4 linked regions of the Homo sapiens genome follow. The protein of the gene in region 1 purifies or fractionates together with the protein of each later gene. This does not show direct contact. Each region holds a gene or a part of one and is shown in the gene's direction. Other genes may lie near its edges.

Evidence for each region.
Region 2: the proteins of RFPL2 (region 1) and MIOS purify together in Homo sapiens (affinity purification with mass spectrometry; 3 studies listed by BioGRID and IntAct, with this or other methods). This does not show direct contact.
Region 3: the proteins of RFPL2 (region 1) and BACH1 purify together in Homo sapiens (affinity purification with mass spectrometry; 3 studies listed by BioGRID and IntAct, with this or other methods). This does not show direct contact.
Region 4: the proteins of RFPL2 (region 1) and ZNF507 purify together in Homo sapiens (affinity purification with mass spectrometry; 3 studies listed by BioGRID and IntAct, with this or other methods). This does not show direct contact.

Annotation. Positions count from the first base shown.
Region 1 is NC_000022.11:32,202,065-32,209,562, reverse strand, and holds the start of RFPL2 (ret finger protein-like 2), read left to right. Parts: upstream 1-4,489; 5' UTR 4,490-4,856; exon of another isoform or gene 4,857-5,260; intron 5,261-6,085; exon of another isoform or gene 6,086-6,922; intron 6,923-7,012; 5' UTR 7,013-7,111; coding exon 7,112-7,230; intron 7,231-7,498.
Region 2 is NC_000007.14:7,604,852-7,609,441, forward strand, and holds the end of MIOS (GATOR2 complex protein MIOS), read left to right. Parts: intron 1-1,090; coding exon 1,091-1,220; intron 1,221-2,144; coding exon 2,145-2,241; 3' UTR 2,242-4,081; downstream 4,082-4,590. UniProt on the Homo sapiens protein: As a component of the GATOR2 complex, functions as an activator of the amino acid-sensing branch of the mTORC1 signaling pathway. The GATOR2 complex indirectly activates mTORC1 through the inhibition of the GATOR1 subcomplex.
Region 3 is NC_000021.9:29,322,911-29,329,951, forward strand, and holds part of BACH1 (transcription regulator protein BACH1), read left to right. Parts: intron 1-3,148; coding exon 3,149-4,483; intron 4,484-6,576; coding exon 6,577-6,783; intron 6,784-7,041. UniProt on the Homo sapiens protein: Transcriptional regulator that acts as a repressor or activator, depending on the context. Binds to NF-E2 DNA binding sites. Plays important roles in coordinating transcription activation and repression by MAFK.
Region 4 is NC_000019.10:32,383,578-32,388,176, forward strand, and holds the end of ZNF507 (zinc finger protein 507), read left to right. Parts: 3' UTR 1-4,090; downstream 4,091-4,599. UniProt on the Homo sapiens protein: May be involved in transcriptional regulation.

The DNA of each region.
Region 1 (7,498 bases):
TGGTTAACTTTGGACCTCACCCTGAGTCCATGTGATTACAACTGATCATCTGTGTGCCTCAGTCTCCTCCCGAGTCCCAGAGCTAGTGACGTGAACACCAGTATCTTGTAGGAAGAAGGCACTGAGGTCCCAGAAGGAAAGTGAGGTACAGAGACCAGGCTTAAGTGACAGGAAGTGGCAGCTGTCTCAGCTGTTTTGGAAGCCTGAGAACTGACTTCCCGGTCCTAAAGTGAGGGATGCTGGCCTCATGCCCCCTCAGGCCAGGACCCTGCACTGAGTGCCTGCGGACATATTTAGACAGCACGTGGCCTCTGCTGGCACTGTCTGGGGACAGCAGAAAAGAGTACTGGGGAGTGGACATGGGAAGATTCTATGTAAAATTCAACAAAAGTGAACTTTCAAAAGAGCCCATAGGGCCCTCCCAGGCCTGCCAGGCCAGCTCACAGCTCCAGGTGGGCACCCCAAGCATCTCAGAGCCACAGAACAGCCACGGCAATGTCCCTTGGGAAGCAGCACCACTTGCCACTTGCTTTGGCTGTGACCTGCATCTCTGGTCTGCTTTCTGTGCATCTTGGCTAAAAGACAGCTGGGAAAGAGGCCACACTCTCCTCCAGGAAGAGAGGCCCAGCAGAAACTGCATTAGCCAGGCAAGCACCAGCTGCCCGACCTGCTCAGGAATAGCATGCGCCACATGCCTGACCAAAGGCCTCTCCCCAAACCCTCTTCTCCCTTGGAGACCAGGACCCTGGAGTCACTCTCTGGAGATCTGGCCAATAACCCCCTGGACCCCAGGGCTGTTTGTGGTTCCCTTGGAAGAAGAAGTAAAGGGCCCAAATGCCTGCAGCACATGCCTGGGGGCTAGACAAGGACACTGACCTGGAGAGGCCTTCCTTCACACCCTGCTGTGGGGCTTGTCGCTCTCCATGCCTTCTCTGCTGCTTCCCTGCTTGACTTCAGCCTCACAGCATGTGGGGTATAACTGGCATGAGGGGCAGGAAGGTGAGGAGGAGGTCCCTAGGCAGGTGCGTGGCTGCAGCACAGAGAGACCAGGGCTCACCGGGCCTGGTGCTTGGCATACTCAGGGGCCTGGAGGATGGGTGCATGGAGTTGGTTTGTGGGAAAAATGAGGCCTTGTTGTGGCAGGGGATGGGGAGCTGCCTGGGCGTGGCCTTCGGTCTGGCAGGGATGAACACCTCAGGATGTGCAGTACCTGGCCCTCAGTCTGCCAGAGATGAATACCCCAGGCTGTGCAGCAGCTTCGGTGTCATCCAACACCACACTGCCTAGGCAACACCTGCCCACAGTGGCTTGGACAAGACACCCCTGTCAGCCCCTGGGCTGTAAGTCAGTGGGCCAGCATCTGCCCAAGGCAGGAATCCTGGGAGGGGCTGGCCATTGTCCCTCCTGACTCAGTTGCTCTCAGCTCCCTACTGTGCCATCAGGTGCTCTCAGGACAGATGCTTCCAGGACAGGCTCTTCTACAAAAACGGGGTTGCCTCCTGGGCCTGGAGTCACACCATAGACAAGGAGGCTTTTGGGCACCTAGCCAGGGTCACTCTGCACACATCTCATGAATGAAAATCCTCATCAGAAAATACATCACCGTTCCTCCAGGATGTGACTGTTTCTAGAGAGGGCCTGGTCTCTATCTCCCACTCCCTCCTCCACATGCTACAAGAAATAGAAGCAGCAGCATAAGAAAATGAAGAGGAACAAGAAAATGATGATAAGGAGAAGAAAAGAAAAAGAACAGACAAGGGAATCAGGAGTCCTATTACAGCTTTTGTCCCCTCCCTGATTCATGAAATTTAAAAAAGCCCAAGACTATCCCAACAAAAAACAAGCAAAAAGATACACAAATAGTCACTACCCAAACTTTGTTAATAATGACACAATGCTGCCACTCACGCCTGGCTCAGGACCTACCAGGAGGAGGGCGCCCTCCAGATTCTGCAGGAGAAGCGGAGGAGACTCCTCCTTCCCCAGGCTGCGCCTCCACCGCTGCCCCAGAGGCCCACAGCTTCCTACCCACCCCAGGCCAGGCCCAGCCGGGCGGGTCAGCCCTGGAGCGCTCCTACCCGCCTTCCCAACCTCCAGACTTGCTGCTGCTGCCACCACTAGCACTGATGCCAATACAACCACTGTTCCTGTTGCCCTCAGTCCACTGGTCCACCCTACAAGGCTCCTACCACCTGGATACCACAGCAGGCCTGCCCTTGCCCAGGCAGCAGCCAGCCGCCCTCCTACTGCTCTGGCACTCTGCAGTCTCCATTGCTGCTCTCCTACCGCTCTGGTGCTCTGTAGTCTCCATCGCCACCACCAACCACAGCAAGGTGAGCTGCGGTGCCCCCAGCTCCAGCCTCCAGCATGGAATAAGTGGCTCCTCCTCCTGGCACGGAGCAACTGGGCAGGCAAAGTCAGATAAGCCTAGAACAGGATGCAGAGAGTGGTAGCATTAGAGTCTCACCTTGTCATGCTGGCCACTAGGTGGCAGGGGCCAGTTTTAGCAAAGGCACTCACACCTACCCTCCAAAGCCCAGCCTCCCTTTTTGGCCCAAGTTCACCAGGAACTGGGGCCTGGGGTGGGGACTGGAGACACCACAGTACAGCGTCCGGGCTTCCCACTCGGCACGAATCGCTGGGCCCACCCCTGGCTGCGCTCCTCAGGAAGCAGAAGCAGCAGAAACTCAACCCCAGCCAGCCCTCCCCACCCAAGTGCCGGTACCTCTTCCTGACACCTCCACCCACAGGGCCCTGTCACTCCATGATGTCCGCTACTGTGTGCCCAGGGGTCCCAGACGGTCTCAGCAACACATGGTGAGAGGGCGCGCGCCTGGGAACCACAGCAGGTCTAGGGGCCGGGCCGTGCTCAGGATCCCCGCAGAAATGCTGTGTGCTGGCCAGGAGCAGAAGGAGATGGCCCTCTAGAGACTGGAGTCCCTCTCACCTCCTCTGACCACCGCTGTCACTGACACCTCCGCTGCCCACCACCAGGGGGACGGTGCAGCCCCCGATAGCGCCCCCGACCCTCCCCCACAGCTGGCAGTGTAGCACCAGATGGCAACCCCAACCCGCCCCTGCCTCGGACACTGCAGCACCAATGGCACCCGCAACCCACCCCCTGCCTTGGGCAGCGCAGCCCGGGATAGCGCCCCCAACCCGCTCCCTGCCGTAGGCAGTGGCTGTAGACAGTGTAGCCATGGGTAGCGACCCCAACCAGACCCCTGCCGTGGGCAGTGATGCCCCGATATGGCACCCAAATCGCCCCCTACCCCGGGCAGTGCAACCCTGGATAGTGCCCCTACCTGCTCCCCACCAGGAGAAGCAGCCCAGGATAGCACCCTCAACCCACTTCCTGCCTCCAGGCAGTGCAGCCACAGATAGCACCCAAACTTACTCCCCACCTCGGGCAGTGCGGCCACAGACAGCTCACCTAAACCACCCCCTGCCAAGGGCAGTGTAGCCCCCTATAGTGCACCCAACCTGCCCCTGCTGCAGCCAGTGCAGCCCCAGATAGCACACCCACCCGCTCCCTGCTAGGCAGTACAGACCCCTGATAGCACCCAACCCACCCCTCCACCGCAGGCAGTGTACCCGGCCCTCAATAGCGCCCCCAACCAACGCCCCCACCCCCTCTCCATGGGCAGTCCAGCCCCGGTACCAATCCCAACAACCCCCCGCTACCTGTCTCAGTGTAGCCCCCAGAGAGCGCCCTCAACAACCCCCTCCCCACTGCCAGCAGTGTAGCACCCTATAGTGACCCTAACCCGTCCCCCACCACCAGCATTGCAGCCCCAAATAGTGCCCCCAACCCGCTCCCCACTGTGGGCAGTGCAGCCATGGATAGTGTCCCCAACCAGCTCCCAGATGCAGGCAATGATGCCCTGGATATCACGCCCGCCCCCGTCCCCCACAGGCAGAGTAGCACCGGATAGCAGCACCCACCCTCGCCACCAGCAGTGTTGCACCCACCAGCCCCCCACAACCTGTCCCCAACAAGGGCATCAGGGCATTGCAGCACCTGATAGTTCTACTAACTCACCCCCGCCCCCCGGCCGCGGGCAGTGCATCCCCAGATAGTGCCCCCAAAACTCCCCACTGCCGCAGGAATTACAGCTTCGGATAGCGCCCCAACCCATCTCCAGCCATAGGCTGGATAGCGCCCCCGGATAGCGCCCCCACCCCACTCCCCTCAGCGGGCAGTGACGCCCGAGGTACCACACTCAAGCAGCCCCCCAACACGGGCAGTGACGCCCTGGATAGGGCCCCCAACCCGCCCCCCACGCCACAGGCAGTACGGCCTGGGATAACGAACCTATTCTGCCACCTTTTCACCATTCTGGCTGCGCTGTAGTCACCCTCGCGGCCACCAACCGCAGCAGCGAGGTGAGCCACTGTAGGCTCCAGCCTCCAGCATGCGCGGTAGATGACTCTAGCCTCTGGCATGCGCGGCAAGTGGCTCCTCCTCCTTCTCCTCTAAGCCGGGCACAGAGCAGCTACGCAGGCCGACGCAGATGAGCCTGGAAGGGCAAGCCACCCCTCTTGGCATCCTTTATATACTGAGTTTAATGCAAATGAAGTTTCTCGACTACATAGTCTGATCGGATGAGAGAAACCTCTAGGCCTACTCTGATCGGGCTTTGTTATCTTGTTCTGATTGGTTATCCTAAGACTTGCTGTCATCCAGTCAGAACGTGAAAATAAAGCACAATCAGAGTAGACCTAGAGGTTTTTCTCTCATCCAATCTGAACATGTAGTCCAGAAACCTTACTTGCATAACCTCGGTCTGTGGGGGGAGGGGTTCTTGCCATTCCAGGCACTTCTGCGTCTGCCAGCCCATCTGCTCCATGCCCAGGTTAGAGGAGGAGTCACCTGTCCCACGCTGGAGGCTTGAAAGCCTGCAGCAGCATGGCTCGGCTCGCTGCCGTTGGTGGCGGTGAGGGAGACTAGACCGCAGCCAGAATGTAGAAAGGTGGCGGGGTGGATGAGCTATCCAGGGCTCACTGCCTGCGGCAGGGGGCGGGGAGGGGGACAGGTTGGATGCACGATCTGGAGCTGCACTGCCCGAGGTGGGAGCGGGGGCGGATTGAGGGCGCCATCGTGGGCTACAACCCGGTGGTGGGAGGCGTGTTAGGGGCAGTATTGGGTGCTGCACTGCCTACAGCACGGGAAGGTTGGGTGCTTTACCGGACGTCATTTCCCGCAGCCGCGGGGTGGCTTGCTGGGGGCGCTATCCGTGGCTGCACTGGTCGCGCTGGGGTACGGGTTGGGGGCGCTATCTGGGACATCAGTGCGCATGGCAGGGAACTTGTTGGCTGTGATATCCGAGGCGTCACTGCCCTTGGCTGGGGGCTGGTTGGGGGCTCTATCTATGGGCTACACTGCCTACAGCCAGGAGCGTGTTGGGGCGTTATCGGGGCGGACTGCCAGTGGCGGGGGTGGGGGTGCGGGTTGGGTGCTATCGGGGGGCTTCACTGCCTGGCAGGGAGTGGATTGGGTGCGCTATTTGGGGTTGGACTGCCGGCGGTGGTTGACTCGGTGGGAGGAGAGGGGCAGAGGGAATGGGTTGGATGCACTATCGGGAGCTACACTGCCCGAGGCGAGGGGGAGATGGGGGCGCCATCGTTGGCTACACCGCATGTAGTGGGGGGCGTGTAAGGAGCAGTAGTGCGTGTTGCATTGCTCATGGCGGGGGAGGGTTGGGTGCGTTATCCCGGGCGTCATTTCCCACAGCGGCGGGGGTCAGTGGAGGGGCTTGTTGAGGGCGCTATCCATGGCTGCACTGGTCGCTGAGGGGCAAGGATTGGGGGCGCTACCTGGGACATCAGTGCCATGGTGGGGAACTTGTTGGGTGTGTTATCCGAGGCATCACTCCCCATGGCTGGGGGCTGGTTGGGGGCGCTACCCATGGGCTGCACTGCCCACAGCCAGGAGCGTGTATGGGACATTATCGGGGGCGGACTGCCAGTGGCTGGGTGGGGAGGCGGGTTGGATGCTATGTGGGGTTGCACTGCCCAGCAGGGAGTGAGTTCGGTGCGCTATCTGGGGTTGCACTGCCGGCGGTGGGTGGCAGATTGGGTGCCCTATCGCTACACTGCCGCGGCGAGTACCGGGTTGGCGGCGCTATCCTGGGCTACACCGCCGGTGGCGGGAGGCGTTTTAGGGGCGCTATCTGGTGCTGCACTGCCCGCGCAGGAGTTGGGTTGGGTGACCTACTCCAGGCGTCACTGCCCGAGGCTGGGGGCTGATTTGGGGCGCTATCCCGGGAGTCATTTCCTGTGGCGAGGGGCTGGTTGAGGGTGGTATCCGTGGCTGCACTGCCCACAGCACAGAGCGGGTTTGGGGAGTTATCCCGGGCTGCGCTGCCCGTGGCAGGGGGCAGGCTGCCAGCGCCATTGGGTGCTGCATGTACTAGGCACGGATGAGTTAGGGGCGCCATCTGGGACTGCACTGCCGGTGGCGGGCGGTGGAGGTGTCAGTGACAGCGGTGGTCTGCAAGAGAGGAGCGGTCCTCCTCTTCCCGGCCACCTCCTCCTGTTCTTGCTCAAGTGCGGCGGGCGCACAGCATTTCCTGAGCGCGGCAGGGGCCCCAGCCCCGTGGTGCTTCCTGGACCCGCCTCCTATTGCTCTGTGTTGCAGAGACCGCCTGGGACCCCGGGGCACGCAGTAGTGGACACGAGGAGGCTACAGGGCCCTGTGGGTGGAGGAGGCATCAGGAACGGGAACCGGCACTTGGGTGGGGAGGGCTGGCTGGGGTTGAGTTTCTGCTGCTCCTGCTTCCCGAGGAGTGCAGCCAGGGTGGCTGCAGCTGTTCCTGTGGAGTGGGAAGCCCGGGCACTGTGGTGTCTGCAGTCCCCACTCCAGGCCGCAGTTCCTGGCCAGCTTGCGCTAAAAGGAGAGGCTGGACTTTGAAGTGTGGGTGTGAGTACCTTCGCTGAAACCGGCCCCTGCCACCCAGTGGCCAGCATGACAAGGTGCGCTCTAATGTTACCACTCTGCATCCTGTTCTAGGCTTTTCTGGCTTTGTCTGCCCGGATGCCCAGTGCCCTGAGAAGGAGCTACATGCCACGGGCTGGAGGCTAGAGCCTGTGGCACCATGATTTGCCTCCGATGGAGGTGGCTGAATTAGGCTTCCCAGAGACTGCAGTGTCCCAATCCAGGATCTGTCTATGTGCTGTATTGTGTGGCCACTGGGACTTTGCAGACATGATGGTGATAAGGAGCCTGAGGTGAGAGACAATTCTGGGTTTTCCGCATTGCTCCAGGGTGGAGTCTTTATAAGGGAAAGAGGAAGGCAGGAGGAGGGTCACAGTGAGAGGAGGAGATGTGGGGATGGAGGGAGAGAGAAGGAGAGGGGAGTCCAGGGAGAGGAAGACAGAAAGTGGGGGGAGAGAAGATCAGGAGAGAGATCTGAAGATGCTGAGCTCTGGCTTTGTAGTTAGAAGAAAGGGCCAGGAGCTGGGGGCGTCCTCTAGAAGCTGGAAAAGTTCTGGAAAT
Region 2 (4,590 bases), on another chromosome or scaffold:
GAGCTTTACACAAAGGTGTAAAGTAGTGTACATATCAGATCTATATTTTATTTATCTCTTCCCCCTTTCCTTTTTGCCCTCTCATTATTAATTGTTGGTGACCCTTTCAGGAGTAATTCTAGTGTGTTTACATCTTTAATCATTGAATTACTTACACATCCTTTCACCTCATATCATTAGCAAAAACGGATATTTTTTAAAACTATTCCCGACTGCAAGATTATCCTTTTGGTCATGAAAGCGTGACCTGCAATGGTCCAAGCAAAATTTTTAACATAGTTATCGATGCATAATGTCTTTATAGATAGCAATTAAGTAAAAATATTAAGTCTAATTAAGCAATTGTTTAAGTTACACAAGTCTCATGAAGTGCATTGGGAAACTTTCTGCTTTTTCTCTTCTTTGAAAGGGCTTGTACAGATGAGAATTACCTGTCCCTTGATAGATTTTTTTTTTTTTTTGAGACAAAGTCTTGCTCCATCACCCAGCCTGGAGTGCAGCAGTGCAATCTCGGCTCCCTGCAGCCTCCAATCCCCAGATTTAAGCAATTCTTGTGCCTCAGCCTCCCAAGTAGGTGGGACTACAGGCATGTGTCACCACCCCCGGCCAATTTTTGTATTTTTAACAGAGACGGAGTTTCACCATGTTGGCCAGACTGGTCGTGAACTCCTAGCCTCAAGTGGTCTGCCCGCCTCAGCCTCCCAAAGTGCTGGGATTACAGGCATGAGCCATCACACCCAGCCCTACCTGTTCCTTGAATGTTAAGTAAAATTCACTTGTAAACTGGGCCTGGTATTTTCCTTGTGGAAAGATTTTAAACTACTGATTTGGTCTCTCCAAAGTTTTAAATTTAGATTGTTTCTTAGTGGGTTTGGATTTTTTTTTCCATTTTTATATTGGCTATTAAAAATGTAGGGGAGCTTCTGTCATTCAGTTTCGCTTCATCTAAACTAGAACCTACCATCAAAATTGCTATTTCAATATGATGTGTGATTCATATTTGGAACACAGTTTTAGAAATGCTTTTTGAAAGTAACTTTAAATAAAATATTATGATATAGTTAATGAAGATCATTTTATTTTGTCATAGGAGGAACCAAATCAGATGAAAAAGTGGACTTGAGCAAGGACAAAAAATTAGCCCAATTTAACAACTGGTTTACATGGTGTCATAATTGCAGGCACGGTGGACATGCTGGACATATGCTTAGTTGGTTCAGGTAATCAGCACATTTCTTCTTTGATAGGCTTGGAGTTATGGGGGATAACACAGATTGCTTCTAAATAGTTTGGGTTTATCTATTAGCATTTAGCCAAAGTATGAATTTTATTTTTTACTGTCACTCATGTTAACAAAGGTGGTGTGAACATGTCGTGATTAGATATCCTATGTAACCTTAAACTATAAAGGTAATACTTATGTAAGAACTAATTTAAATGTTTTGTATGAGTTAAATGTTTGAATAACATTATTTAACTTTATTCGGGGAGAGGATATGTTTACAGTTTTTACACTGAATATTCTGTAATTTACCATGCAATTGAATTACTAATGAAATGTTAAAAGAGCATATCATACCTCTGCCTCAGTTCTCTTCTAAGTAAGCTTTTTATGTAGTCACGCAATTAAGACTGTCAAGACATATTTGAATTTCATTTTGAATGGTGCCAGTGGCCCTGTGCTCCTGGTTGATACAGCATTTATACCCAGTTTGTCTTACTAGCTAATTTAAACTCTGAGCACATCCCTGTCACCTTCACAACTATAAATGAAATATCTTGCCATATATGTAGAAAGTAAAAGGTATGTGTTTCTTAACTTCTCCCTAAACTTCAGCTTGGCAGTAGTTTATAATTTGATGCTTTTGATGCTTTTTTTCTCTGGGTTTTAGTTTCTATATTTTTCCAAATGCCATTTTGAAAAGTTGCATTATAGATAGATATAAGTAAACAGGTGGGCACAGTGGTGCACACCTGTAGTCCCAGCTACTCAGGAGGCTGAGGCAGGAGGATCACTTGAGCCCAAAAGTGTGCGTACAGCCTGGGAAATATAGGGAGACCCTGTCTCTTAAAAAATAAATAAATAAATAAATGTATGTCTGTCTAATTTGGATTTTTAACTGTTATTTGACCTATTTTTTTAGGGACCATGCAGAGTGCCCTGTGTCGGCATGCACGTGTAAATGTATGCAGTTGGATACAACAGGGAATCTGGTACCTGCAGAGACTGTCCAGCCATAAAATGTTACCACCTTAAGAGAACCCTTCAAGTGTGGAGCTTTCTAGTAGGTGTCCTTCATAGCTCAGAAACATACCTCAGAACAAGCCATTCATGACTTACCTGTAATGGGAAAATAAATCATTCTATCAGATCAGCAGTTTTGATGTTTGAGTGATTTTGATATGCTTCACAGAGACAAATGCTGCCAAAATAAACATCGAAGTATAGACATGAGTTCTGTTCAGCAGGTTGAAAAGTCTGATTTAGAAAAACTTTCTAAGTTTTGGTTGAAATTATGAACACTCTAGAAGCAGAATTTCTGGAAGAGCCAAGAACAGACTTTGAGCCTATATCTTCAAAGCTGAAACTGGATATCTTTCAATAAAATATGTGCACTTTTAAAATAAAATGACTAATTCTGTGATTCAGACAATAGTTTTAAGTTCAGCTGTGCTTAGATTTCTTTCAGATTAATTTAAAATTACAGATTTTTACTTTTAGAATTGCAGAGCCCCTATCCCACACTGGAGAATATTTTTTATTACTGTCTGTTATATATGTGTCTATGTGTGTGTGTATATTTATGTGTGTATGTATAAATATGTATTTTTTAAAGGAGCCTTTTCCCTCCTTTGATTTTAAGATAAGCAATCTTTTGGCATAACATTATCGTCTTCCTAGAAAAGCCAAGATGAAGAATCTATCTTACAACTTTTTCTCTTCAGTAGAGAAAAACATGTACCATTTCAGGTGAACATACAAAATTTTCACTTTCTACCTTTTGCCTTCCAATGTCCTGATTTGTCTTCAAAGGTTTTTCTCCATATTAATTTGTCATCTTATCCTCATCACCTGAGAACATTTTACTGCATACAAAGTCTATGCAAGATTATATGTAACTAGCCATTTAGTATAATCTATGTCAGTGTTTCTGTGCTGTCAAATTCCGTCCTGATTTGGAATACCATACCTTGTTCTTTCCAAGGTAGACTAGGAAGTGTTGGGGAAATGGGGTCACTTCAGAGACCATTTTAGATGTAAGTTTTTAAATGTAAGTGTTACTGGGGCTAAGTCAGGTACTTTATTTAAAACATTTTTTTTTCTCATTTCATAGCTAGATAGTTGTAAGAGAAATACAAAGAATTTACAAGATGCTTCTCTGTCATCTGCCATATGCAGAGGGACTGAACTAGGAATTTTGTAGTTGAAGCTGTGTTCATAAAGAGTAAATCTTATTTTATAGATTTTGGAGAAATAAAACAAGAATTTTAAGAGCTTTCGTATTAGCAGTTTTGCCTTATAAAAACTAAGATTTGTCAGATTAGTTTGAGGTGTAACCTAAATATTAAAAGTAGATTAAATTTATTTTTTACCTTGAGTGTCTGATACATAAAACCCTTTTCTAGGAAAACATTGGAAGTAGTACATATTTACTCTAAATGTCTCACCTGCATGACAGTCTTTTCAAATGAAAGACATGGTAATTGCAATTTTTTTTTAAAGATTGCTATTAAGGGTACTTTTTCCAGCCTTCATTTGAGTAAATCTTAATTGATTTCATTTTATTAACATATACCCTTTACCTTTAATATTTCATTTGAAGTGTTCCTTTCAAACTTACTGTCTTAAATATGAAAGTCAGCTTTAAGTAATGTCAGACTCATATGCATTTTCATTCTCATTAGCTAAAGTAAAATGTAAAATTATCTCAAATAGTTACAAGTTTTGGAAATACAGTATAAAACATGAATGTAAAGTCTATTATGTAATATGCTTATTTGTAATCCTAATATATGAGGGTGACATTTTTAAGATTGTATGTATGTGTCAACCTCTTAAATGTTTTCTGTGAAGCCCAAACATGCAGTTTATGTCTCTGGTGTCTGTTTTGCATTTCAGTGTGCATGGACAATCAAATTATTTTCTCATTTTTATCACTAAGTCACTGGTATTTGGGTTTATAAACTCAACAAGATACTTTACCTAAACATGATCAATAGATGTGTTTATTAAAAGTGTTTTTATTATTTTTAAAAGATTGAATAAATCTGGGTTGAAGTCATTGTATCTAATCAAGAAATTATGATTCCTTTACAAATAATCCACGTGAAGTAATATTGGTGCTTTTTTTGATGACAGACTTCATACTTAATATTAGAAGTAACATTCCTTTTAGGCTCTGTTTTTCAATTCAACCCACTTTCCAGAATAGTTATTATCCTTTAAAATGGTATATTTTAAAAGTAGCTTCCCATTGTCAATGCTTCACATAGTAAGTATTTAAAAGAATGTAGTTCTTCATTTAATTAGATGACTCAATTTCAGTCATTCATTTGACTGCAAGTAGTTAAAGCATGGTCTTTGAAACA
Region 3 (7,041 bases), on another chromosome or scaffold:
TTCATATTTTCAAATTATTGAATGAGACTTTACAAGTAAAGCAAAGTTTGATTCGTGGATTTAGGAGGAAAGGTATGTGCATACATGCATGTGTGTATGCATTCATTCATTCTTTCTAATGTGTAAATCATAAGTTTTCAAATATTTGAAGTGTTTCATTATAGTGACAATGTCAAAATACCTTATAACTCACTATCCTAAAGACCTTTTTAGATTATTTTAACATATTTAAAAATTTTAATTGAAATTTTTATCGAGTGTATTAGGGTTCTCCAGAGGGACAGAACTAATAGGATATATGTATGTATGAAGGGGCGTTTGTTAAGGAGAATTGGCTCACATGTTCACAAGGTGAAGGCCCATTATAGGCCACCTGCAAGCTGAGGAGGAAGGAAGCTAGTAGTGGCCCAGTCCGAGTCCAAAGGCCTCAAAAGTAGGGAAGCCAACACTGTAGAGCCTTCAGTCTGTGGCCAAAGGCCCAAGAGCCCTCGGCAAACCGCTGGTGTAAGTCTGAGAGTCCAAAGGCCAAAGAACCTGGCGTCTGATGTCAAGGGCAGGAGGCATCCAGCAGGGGAGAAAGATGAAAGCTGGAAGACTCAGCAAGTCACCTATCCCACCTTTTTCCTCCTGTTTTGTTCCAGCCTCGCTGGCAGCTGAGTGGATGGTGCCCACCCATATTGAGGGTGGGTCTTCCTCTCCCAGTCCACTGACTCAAATGTTAGTCTTCTCTAGCAACGCCCTCACTGACACACCCAGAAACAAGACTTTACAGCCTTCAATCCAATCAAGTTGACATTTAATATTAACTGTCACACTGATGTTTTCATGTACAGATGTAAGAAACAATGCAGAGTTCCTTTTCACTTTGTCCAGTGTCCGCCATTGATAACATTTTGCAAAATTGTAGTATAGTATTACAACCAGGATATTGATACAATCTCCCATAGCGTTCAGATTGCCACAATTTTGCTTGTACTAGCATGTGTGTGTGCGGGTTAAGTTCTATATAATTTTATCCCCTGCGAAGGTTTGTGTATCCACCACCATAGTTAAGATAACAGCCGGGCCCAGTGGCTCATGCCTGTAATCCCAGCACTTTGGGAGGGCGAGGCAGGCAGATCACCTGAGGTCAGGAGTTCGAGACCAGCCTGGCCAACATGGTGAAACCACATCTCTACTAAAAATACAAAAATTAGCCAGGCGTGGTGGCGGGCACCTGTAATCCCAGCTACTCGGGAGACTGAGGCAGGAGAATCACTTGCAGTGAGCCAAGATCGTGCCGCTGCACTCTAGCCTGGGTGACAGAGAGAGACTCTGCCTCAAAAAAAAAAAAAAAAAAAAAGGAACTGAACTTGCCAACACAAAGATCCCTTGTGTTGTCCTTTTATAACCACAGACATCTCCTGCCTACACTCCATGCCCTCATCCCCTTGCCCCCTTCCTCCGTGCCTAATCCATGGCAACCACTAATCTTTCTTCCTTTTCTAAAGTTTTGTCATTCTAAAAATGTTATATAAATGGAATTATGCAGTATATTACCTCTTAGGATTGATGTTGTTTGACTTAGCTGAGATTATCCAGCTTGTGTGTATCAGCAATTTATTCCTTTTTATTGCTGAGTAATATTCTGTAGTATGGATGTACCTTGTGTGTGTGTGTGTGTGTGTGTGTGTGTGTGTGTGTGTGTGTGTAGCTTTTTACCTATTGAAGGAAATCAGGCTAATTCTGGTTTTTGGCTATCACAAATAAAATTGCTGTAAACATTTGTGTACTGGTTTTTGTGTGAACATAAATTTGCATTTCTCTGGGATAAAAGACCAGGAGTGCAGTTGCTGGGTTATATGGTAGTTGCATGTTTAGTTTTATAAGAAAGTTTTTTTCAAAGTGTCTGTACCATTTTACATTCCCACTAGCAATATGTGAGTGATTTAGTTTATCGGCATTCTCATTAGCATTTGATGGTATCACTGCTTTTTATTGGAGCCTTTAAAAAGCCTAAACATGGTTTAGCATGTTTATGTTTTTAAGAAGATCACAGCCGGGCGCGGTGGCTCACGCCTGTAATCCCAGCACTTTGGGAGGCCTAGGCGAGTGGATCACGAGGTCAGGAAATAGAGACCATCCTGGCTAACGTGGTGAAACCCCCGTCTCTACTAAAAATACAGAAAAATTAGCCGGGCATGGTGGCAGGCACCTGTAGTCCCAGCTGCTCGGGAGGCTGAGGCAGGAGAATGGCGTGAACCCGAGAGGCGGAGCTTGCAGTGAGCCGAGATCGCGCCACTGCACTCCAGCCTGGGCGACAGAGCGAGACTCCGTCTTAGAAAAAAAAAAATCACAAATATTAATATTATCTTGACCACTCTTATAAGAACTCAGTGGTTTCAAATTAATTTTGTGCTTTTAATCCAGGATGATGCCTTCTGTGTACTGGAGTTGGTTCCATTTGCCTCTCACTTTAAGAGGCAGGTTTAATGTAAATGTGCAAGTTTCTACTTAAAAGTTTTGTTACTTCGAGTCCATGAATTTTTGCTGAAACAGTACCGAGGCATGATTTTTATAACTTCTCTTAGATCACTTTTAAAAATCTGAATCTTTAAAACTTTTACTGTTAGGAATTTTTGACAGTAAAGTTAATAGTTACCAGTTAGTATGCATTTACCATGGATCAAGACTTTGTAACTGCTTTACAAATACTGTTTTATATCCTTTAAAATTCTGCTTTTGTAGCTTGTAGCAGTTGGAGTTGTTTGGAATACAGTGGCCATGTGGAGCTGGGCTAGCAGTAGACTCACTATGTGTGGCAGGTAGTGTTCATCCTGCTCTAATTCATAGATGATTTTTTTTTTCACTATCATGGGAAAATTGTGGTAATGTCTTACATCTTTAACTTATGTGAGTAAACCATAATTCATGTGCAATTAAGAGAGGACTCTATAAAATAGTGTGTGGTCCCTGTGAAAAGCATGCTTTTCCAGGATCTTTTTCTTTTACATTTCTTAGAAGAATATGTTTTCTTCAAATTAAAGTACATATTTTATAATTATCACAAATAAGTTACATATCTCTCTATTCCTCTTCTACTTATTTTGTTTTTATGTACTAGACAGCTTTCAAATGATGTGTTTGTTTTTATTTTGTGTATCAACAGGTGACAGTTAAAGGATTTGAACCTTTAATTCAGTTTGCCTACACTGCTAAACTGATTTTAAGTAAAGAGAATGTGGATGAAGTGTGCAAATGTGTGGAGTTTTTAAGTGTACATAATATTGAGGAATCCTGCTTTCAGTTTCTGAAATTTAAGTTTTTGGACTCCACTGCAGACCAGCAAGAATGCCCAAGAAAAAAATGCTTTTCATCACACTGTCAGAAAACAGACCTTAAACTTTCACTTTTGGACCAGAGGGATCTAGAAACTGATGAAGTGGAGGAATTTCTGGAAAATAAAAATGTTCAGACTCCTCAGTGTAAACTCCGCAGGTATCAAGGAAATGCAAAAGCCTCACCTCCTCTACAAGACAGTGCCAGTCAGACATATGAGTCCATGTGCTTAGAGAAGGATGCTGCTCTGGCCTTGCCTTCTTTATGCCCCAAATACAGAAAATTCCAAAAAGCATTTGGAACTGACAGAGTCCGTACTGGGGAATCTAGTGTCAAAGACATTCATGCTTCTGTTCAGCCAAATGAAAGGTCTGAAAATGAATGCCTGGGAGGAGTCCCGGAGTGTAGAGATTTGCAGGTGATGTTAAAATGTGACGAAAGTAAATTAGCAATGGAACCTGAAGAAACGAAGAAAGATCCTGCTTCTCAGTGCCCAACTGAAAAATCAGAAGTGACTCCTTTCCCCCACAATTCTTCCATAGACCCTCATGGACTTTATTCTTTGTCTCTTTTACACACATATGACCAATATGGTGACTTGAATTTTGCTGGTATGCAAAACACAACAGTGTTAACAGAAAAGCCTTTGTCAGGTACAGACGTCCAAGAAAAAACATTTGGTGAAAGTCAGGATTTACCTTTGAAATCCGACTTGGGCACCAGGGAAGATAGTAGTGTTGCATCTAGTGATAGGAGTAGTGTGGAGCGAGAAGTGGCAGAACACCTAGCAAAAGGCTTCTGGAGTGACATTTGCAGCACGGACACTCCTTGCCAAATGCAGTTATCACCTGCTGTGGCCAAAGATGGCTCAGAACAGATCTCACAGAAACGGTCTGAGTGTCCGTGGTTAGGTATCAGGATTAGTGAGAGCCCAGAACCAGGTCAAAGGACTTTCACAACATTAAGTTCTGTCAACTGCCCTTTTATAAGTACTCTGAGTACTGAAGGCTGTTCAAGCAATTTGGAAATTGGAAACGATGATTATGTTTCAGAACCCCAGCAAGAACCTTGCCCATATGCTTGTGTCATTAGCTTGGGAGACGACTCTGAGACGGACACCGAAGGAGACAGTGAATCCTGTTCAGCCAGAGAACAAGAATGTGAGGTGAGCAGGAATATGTTCTTAATTCATTGTTTTAATAACCATTAATTGGGATTTACTGTGGATCAGCTCCCTTTGCATCATTAGGGATATAATCAGGTTCAGGGAGTGGGGAGGAAACTCATACAAAATTAATTGTAAGACTGTGTGATAGGGCTGGGCGCAGTGGCCCACAACTGTTAATTCCAGCACTTTGAGAAGCCGAGGTGTGGGTGGATCACCTGAAGTCAGAAGTTTGAGATCAGCCTGGCCAACATGGCGAATCTCCGTCTCTACAAAAATTAGCTGGGTGTGGTGGTGGGTGCCTGTAATCCCAGCTACTCGAGAGGCTGAGGCAGGAGAAGCGCTTGAATGTGGGAGGCGGAGGTTGCAGTGAGCCAGGTTTGCACCACTGCACTCCAGCCTAGGAGACAGAGCAAGACTGTCTCAAAAAATTTTTTAAAAACACTGTGTGATAAATACCAAAAGAGAGAGATGAAGTTTGAAGGACTTCTGTTCATTCGTTTCCAGTAGATATATTAACCATAAAGTAGGTTCACACATTGGCTGTGTTCACACATCGGCCATTTAATTGTTTAAATCAAATGCCATGCTGCAAGACAAAAAAGAATAATGATTCTATGCTCATTATTTGATAACTCCTGGAAAAATGCAGCATATATTCAGTCTTGCTCATTGCCAACAAGAACCTCTAGACCTGGGACATGTCCCTGAGCAGTGGTTTAACAGTGATTAGTTGTAGGAATGTGACTTCTAGTGGAGTAAAGTTTATTGGATCTAGTTTTTCATGGCCATTGATTTTTAAATTTTCCTTTGGCCATTTCAACTATTGATGAATGTCTTAATTTAGCATGAGTTACATGTAGCTGGTATGATATTAATCAAAGCAAGCTTGATTTGTATATTCTGTTTGTATTTGATAGATCCTTTCTGTAAAATATTACTTATAAGTCCAATAATGACAAGGGCCTGTTAGTTCCTTCCAAAAATATATTAATTAAAATATTTTTTCTTTTTTTTGTTTTTATATTTTATGATTTTTTTTGCCTTTCAATAGTTGGCTTTTCTCTTTATAATCACAATTTACATTCTTTTTAAAAATTATTTTTCTATTTTATCCATTGCATTTTTTCCCCTTTCTTGGGCTTTATTTGTTTTTTGTAAGAATACTTAACATGGGATCTACCCTTATAACAAAATTTTAAGTGTACGATACAGTATTGTTAAGTATAAGCACAATATTGTACAGCAGATCTCTATAACTTATTCTTTTATGACTGAAACTTAACCCATCCAATTGCAATTCCCCATTTTTTCCCTCTCCCTAGCCCCTGGCAACCACCATTCTACTCTCTGTTTCTGTGAGTTTGACTGTTCTGTCTACTTCGTATAAGTGAAATCATGTTGGATTTACTCTCCTCTGTGTCTGGCTTATTTCACTTAGCATGATGCCTCCCAAGTTCTCCATATTGTAGGCAAATGGCAGGATTTCCTTCTTTTTATCAGGCTGAATGGTATTCCTTTGTGTATATACACCACGTTTTCTTTATCCGTTCATCCATCCATGGACATTTAGGTTGTTTCCATATCATGGCTATTGTGAATAATGCGGTAACGAATATGGCGGGGAGTACAGACTGGGCACAGTGGCTCATGCCTGTAATCCCAACACCTTGGGAGGCTGAGGTGGGTAGATTGCCTGAGCCCAGGAGTTTGAGATCAGCTTGGGCAACATGGTAAAACCCCATCTCTACAAAAAATACAAAAATTAGCCAGGCATGGTGGCATGTGCCAGTAGTCCCAGCTACTTAGGAAGCTGAGGTGAGAGGATCGCTTGAGCCTAGGAGGTTGAGGCTGCAGTAAGCCATGATTGTGCCACCGTACTCCTGCATGACAGAGACCCTGTCTCCAAAAAAATATGTGTAGATCAGTGCAGATATCCTTTTGAGATTGTATAGAAATTGGGATAGAGGCCTATGTTTTCTTTAATGTAAAATAAGTTCTCTGAAAAACTTAGATGTATACCTTCATCTTCCTAGGTTTGACTATAATTATAAAATACAGCAATAATTAGTAATATTTATTTCATATTCTAGGTAAAACTGCCATTCAATGCACAACGGATAATTTCACTGTCTCGAAATGATTTTCAGTCCTTGTTGAAAATGCACAAGCTTACTCCAGAACAGCTGGATTGTATCCATGATATTCGAAGAAGAAGTAAAAACAGAATTGCTGCACAGCGCTGTCGCAAGAGAAAACTTGACTGTATACAGAATCTTGAATCAGAAATTGAGAAGCTGGTAAGTGTAAAAGTTTCTTGTTACTATTTAAATTCCACCACTTTCTTTTTTGTCAAGGAAATAGTTTTTAAATTTCTAGGTCAGATATAATGCTCAATTACTTATTTTAATATGTATCAATTACCATTTTATCATTTTTACCATGATATGCTGTGATATGTAAGTGCTTTTTAAAAAGAAGGTTTTCAAATTAAGAATGACTTTACTGTCTACCTAATCATTAGTGGTTGTGAATAGATTCAAGAAATTATAAAGCAC
Region 4 (4,599 bases), on another chromosome or scaffold:
AGGAAACATAATTAGAGGGCTTTGAAATGATCTACTGAAATACCTAAATTGATAGAAATTAATCATACTCAATCTAGGACATGTTCCTTTACTCCTTAAAAAAGAAAGGAAAGATCTCTAAATTCAAAGCTAGATTGTAAATAGGCATTCAAGAAGTATTGTCTTAAATTTACGATGAATTTCTTGTGAGCAGAGGACGAAACAGGTGAATTCTCACCAGACTCAAACCAGATCTCAATTCGTAGTAATGCTAAATCGTCTTCCGTGTTCTCAGAGGTTCTTTTCAGTGTCTGTCAGAACTTGGCATACTTTCTCCATAGTACGTAGACCTTCTAATACTCTGCTAAATGAAACCACACTTGTTATCTGAAAGTGTGTGAAAGAAACAATGTATGAAAATTTACATTTGATCATCCGGCATTGGAAATAGTTTGAACTATTTCCAAAAATCCCTTAGGGGATGAGGGGTGAAATTTAAAAGCTCCTGAAAATGAGTACTGCTGTGTTGAGCTTTTCTTTCCTGGGGTATATTAATTTAGTTATATTTAGCAGAAGAGGAATATAACCAAATGTGACTAAAATATAGCAGAAATTCAGGTTGTTTGTAAAAATTTTAATAACAAATAGCATTTGGCAAGTCTATAGGATTCTTCCTATCTGGAAATTCTATTTTGTTAGAGTGCGATAGGACATATGGAAAACCAACACAAAGTGCTTTAGCATTAAAACTCACCATCAAATAGATGTAATCTTATTAATTACACATTTTGTATTTTAATTATTTCAAGGAGTGAAGAAAACAGGGTGTTTTTGTTTTTGTAGTTCTGATTACTCATTTATGCATTGTTTTGTTTAAGTAAATTCTGCCTACAAGTGAAAAGGTCGGTGCGCTCTTCTGTGCACCATCCTCACGGTGCTATTTCCGAATATCTGAATATTGATTTCTAACACCTGGATGAGGCTGTGACCGATCAACTTGGAACACTGTAAAGGTTTTCGAATGGGATACGCTGTAGGCACGTTTTAAGAAGTATTCTGTTCCTAAAGTCCAGGTATGATTGGATTAATATTTATAAAATTATTATTAGGAATTATTTAAGTGGGGCCAGGCATCTTGCAACATTTTCTGATTTTTTTTTCTTTCTTTCTAATCTCATTTTGGTGATATTTAAACAAACATAAATGATTGTAACTTTGCAGCTTTTTTATTTAGGTAGCTTTAATTTATTTATGAAAGTTAATCCATTTCTGATACGTGGTTTTTAAAAATATGAAATGGATTTATATATACTATATTCCTCAAATCCACTGTATGTGGACTTATATTCATTTTCTCCTTTTTTCGGAATTGAAACATTTTAATTTCAAATTCAAATAGAACATTTAAAATGATTTCATTATTATTACCCATACTGTTGCCACTCATATTGTAAGTCAGTTTTTTCATTGCTGGTACAATGACTCAGTATTTCTTTATAAAAATCTGTTGTTCTGAAAATCAACAACCTTAGAAGGATTTTGTCTTAGAAAATTTCCTTGGCTTTAGTTTTATATCATATTTAGAAAATAATAATGAAAAGCATCCCCAAAATTTCAATGATGTGAATTTTTAAATTACCTTTATTTCTTTAAACTAATTCCATTGATTGTTACTTAAATTTTCCACCTGGAATCATGGATTTAAAATTTCCCCACCTCATGGGGAAAAAACTAACCCAGAAGTTCAAAGCCTTTAAAGTTTCATCTGATTCTGGCCTTAGAATTGTCCTTAAAAGCTTTCTCCTGGCCGATAGGAGGAAGCATATATCAAGGAGGTTCTTTCCCTTCCCATTATCATTTTGTGGCAAGCCTTAAGTTAACAATGTGTCTACCAAGAACAATTGAGTTTTCTAAAAGTAATAATGAAGATTATGCAATTCTAACTGTAGAAGAGATAGCTATTAAAATAATCAGTAGCCTGGGCATAGTGGCTCACACCTGTAATCCCAATACTTTAGAAGGCCAAGGCTGGAGGACTGCTTGAGTCCAGAAGTTTAAGACCAGCCTGGGCAACACGGGGAGACCCTGTCTCTACAAGAAATTAAAAATTAGCCAGGCATAGTTGGCACGTGCCTGTAGCACCAGCTACTTGGGAGGTTAAGGTGGGAGGATCACTTGAGCCTGGGAGATAGAGGCTTGCAGTGAGCCGTGATGGCACCATTGCACTCCAACCGGGGTGACAGATGAGGTCCTCTGTTTACCTCCCCCCCCAAAAAAAAAATTCAGTAGGAATTCCTTCATAGAATAACATGTTATTTATTGGTATTGACTTCTTATTAGACAGAGCTCATAGTATTTGTTTTCTGCTCCGAACACTTAAAAAATACTAAGACGTGATAGTGAAAATAGCTTTGAAAAGAAACTACATATGGCAAAGGTGGGGAGGGGGGAAGATGATGCATTCTGATCATTATAAAGAATACTTTTCAGGGCTCTATCATTTTCTCCCTTTCTCTAATCATCCAGAATATGGCGGGTGTCCCAGTGTTCAACAGTATCATGCTAATATTCCATTTGATCGGTAGTCCAAGTTCTTTGGCCAGATAGTGCAATGTTGTGACACCGACCGAAGCCTTTGTTCTGGATCTTTCTTCCTATTGAAGGTGGCTGCTGGTGGCTTCATAATTTTCTGTTTTTTTTCTCACAAAGTAAATGGTGGGCATCCATGTTTACATTGCACCTTCCCGTGCTGTAATTGGCTTGACAAAGACAAGCAGGCTTCTCTGTTGAGACTTATTGTGTTTTTAGTTTTCATAGACACTTATTTAATCTTTTTAAATTGTACAGCAAGGTGCTCTAAGTAATATTCGATAAAATATATTTAATAGAAATTTGCGTTTGATATTCATGAACATGAATACATGTATTTTTTTAAGAAATAAGTATTGTGTAACACTATGGCATTGCTTCTATAGCCAAAGTATAAAAATTTCTGGAATACTGACATGTAAAGACTACAGTTAATTCTGACACTGTATCTTATTAAAATAGGATGATTTGCATTTTGTAAAATTATCCTGCACATCAAGCTGCATGCCTTAAAGCGGAAACTCTAGGACTGTGTTCATGGGAGAGCAGTTCATCTGTTCAGAACAGTGAGGCAAGGTCTGTAGTGCTTCTTTAACTACCTTTGGAAATACTGTACAATGTTAGAATAATTTATTTTGCTTTACAGGAGTTTGTCATGTATTGACTTTAATATTGTATTTTGGTAATAAATTTTTTGTTAAAAAAAACTTGGCTCCAAGTTCTATTAACCACAGGTTGTGTTCATTCTTTTCCTGGAAATGATGACTTTATTGCTTAGAAAGTTGTAAATAATTAAAAGCTTCCCAAGAGTTAAATGAAGGTTATGATGACTCTTGATAACTTGTTAATCTGTTGCTGACTAGCATTAGACTGTTACACGAAGATAAACTGAATAAGCATTTAGCTTTTTAAATCATTTTAAAAATTAAGTCTAATTTTGAAGCTTTTTTCCTTGCTACCCAGTTCAGTTTCTCTTCCAAATGTGACACGCTTATATGCTTTCAATTCTGATATAGTCAAAGTGCTAAAGACTAGTTCTGCTATTGACGAAGGAATTAGCATTCCTTAGTGAAGGCCAAAAACTACAGTGATATGTTCACACCTTGATCACTCTGTCGTCTATACAGACAGCTATTGACATATTTGTTGCATTGACGAAGCTAACATCATCTGACTGTATCGTGGGTCTGGTTATCCATTTGTGCCCTAGAATCCTGGGTCACCTCAGTTGAAAGTGACCAAGGCCAAATATTTCGTCCCATGCTTCCCAGGGACAACATAATCATATCCCCTGTCTTTGAAAAACCCAATCTGAAACTGTGTCACTAACCTCCAAATTAAAGAATCCGAGCATGGAAGCTCTAGAACGTATGGTCCAGTGTGGCAGCCACTATAATATCTAAGTGTAAAATACATAGCAGTTGCAAAGACTTAGTACAAAAAGAATGGAAATGTATTAACAGTTTTTTATATTGATTACATGTTGAAATGATATTTTGGTTTAAATAAAATATTAAAATTAGTTTTACCTGTTTCTTTAGCTACTAAACAGTTTTAAATTACATATGTGGCTTACATTATATTTCTTTTGGACAGCGCTGGTACAGAAGAGAGATTAGCAAACTAGGGCCCTCTCTTCAAAGCCAACCTGCCACCTGTTTTGGCAAATAAAGTTTTATTGGCACACAGCCATGCTTTTGTGTGTGTACATATCATATATGGCTATTTTCAAGGTACAACAGCAGCACTGAGTAATTGTGACAGAGACTCTATGGCCCACAAAACCTAATTTACCACCTATCTGATAGAAAAAGTCTTCTGACTAGACCTCTGAACTAGAACAATGGTATAATTTGTGCTCTAGAGCTACCAGGAAGAAAACGGCTTTTTACAAAGAAAGCTTTTTATAGTAGTGCTTTATAACTAAATTAGTTTCTTCCTTTGTAATTTTTATAGTCTACCTGTCTACAGATTTTAACCATATTTTATGACTTTAACCTATTCCATCGCTGATATTTAAAGCCAGTTTGA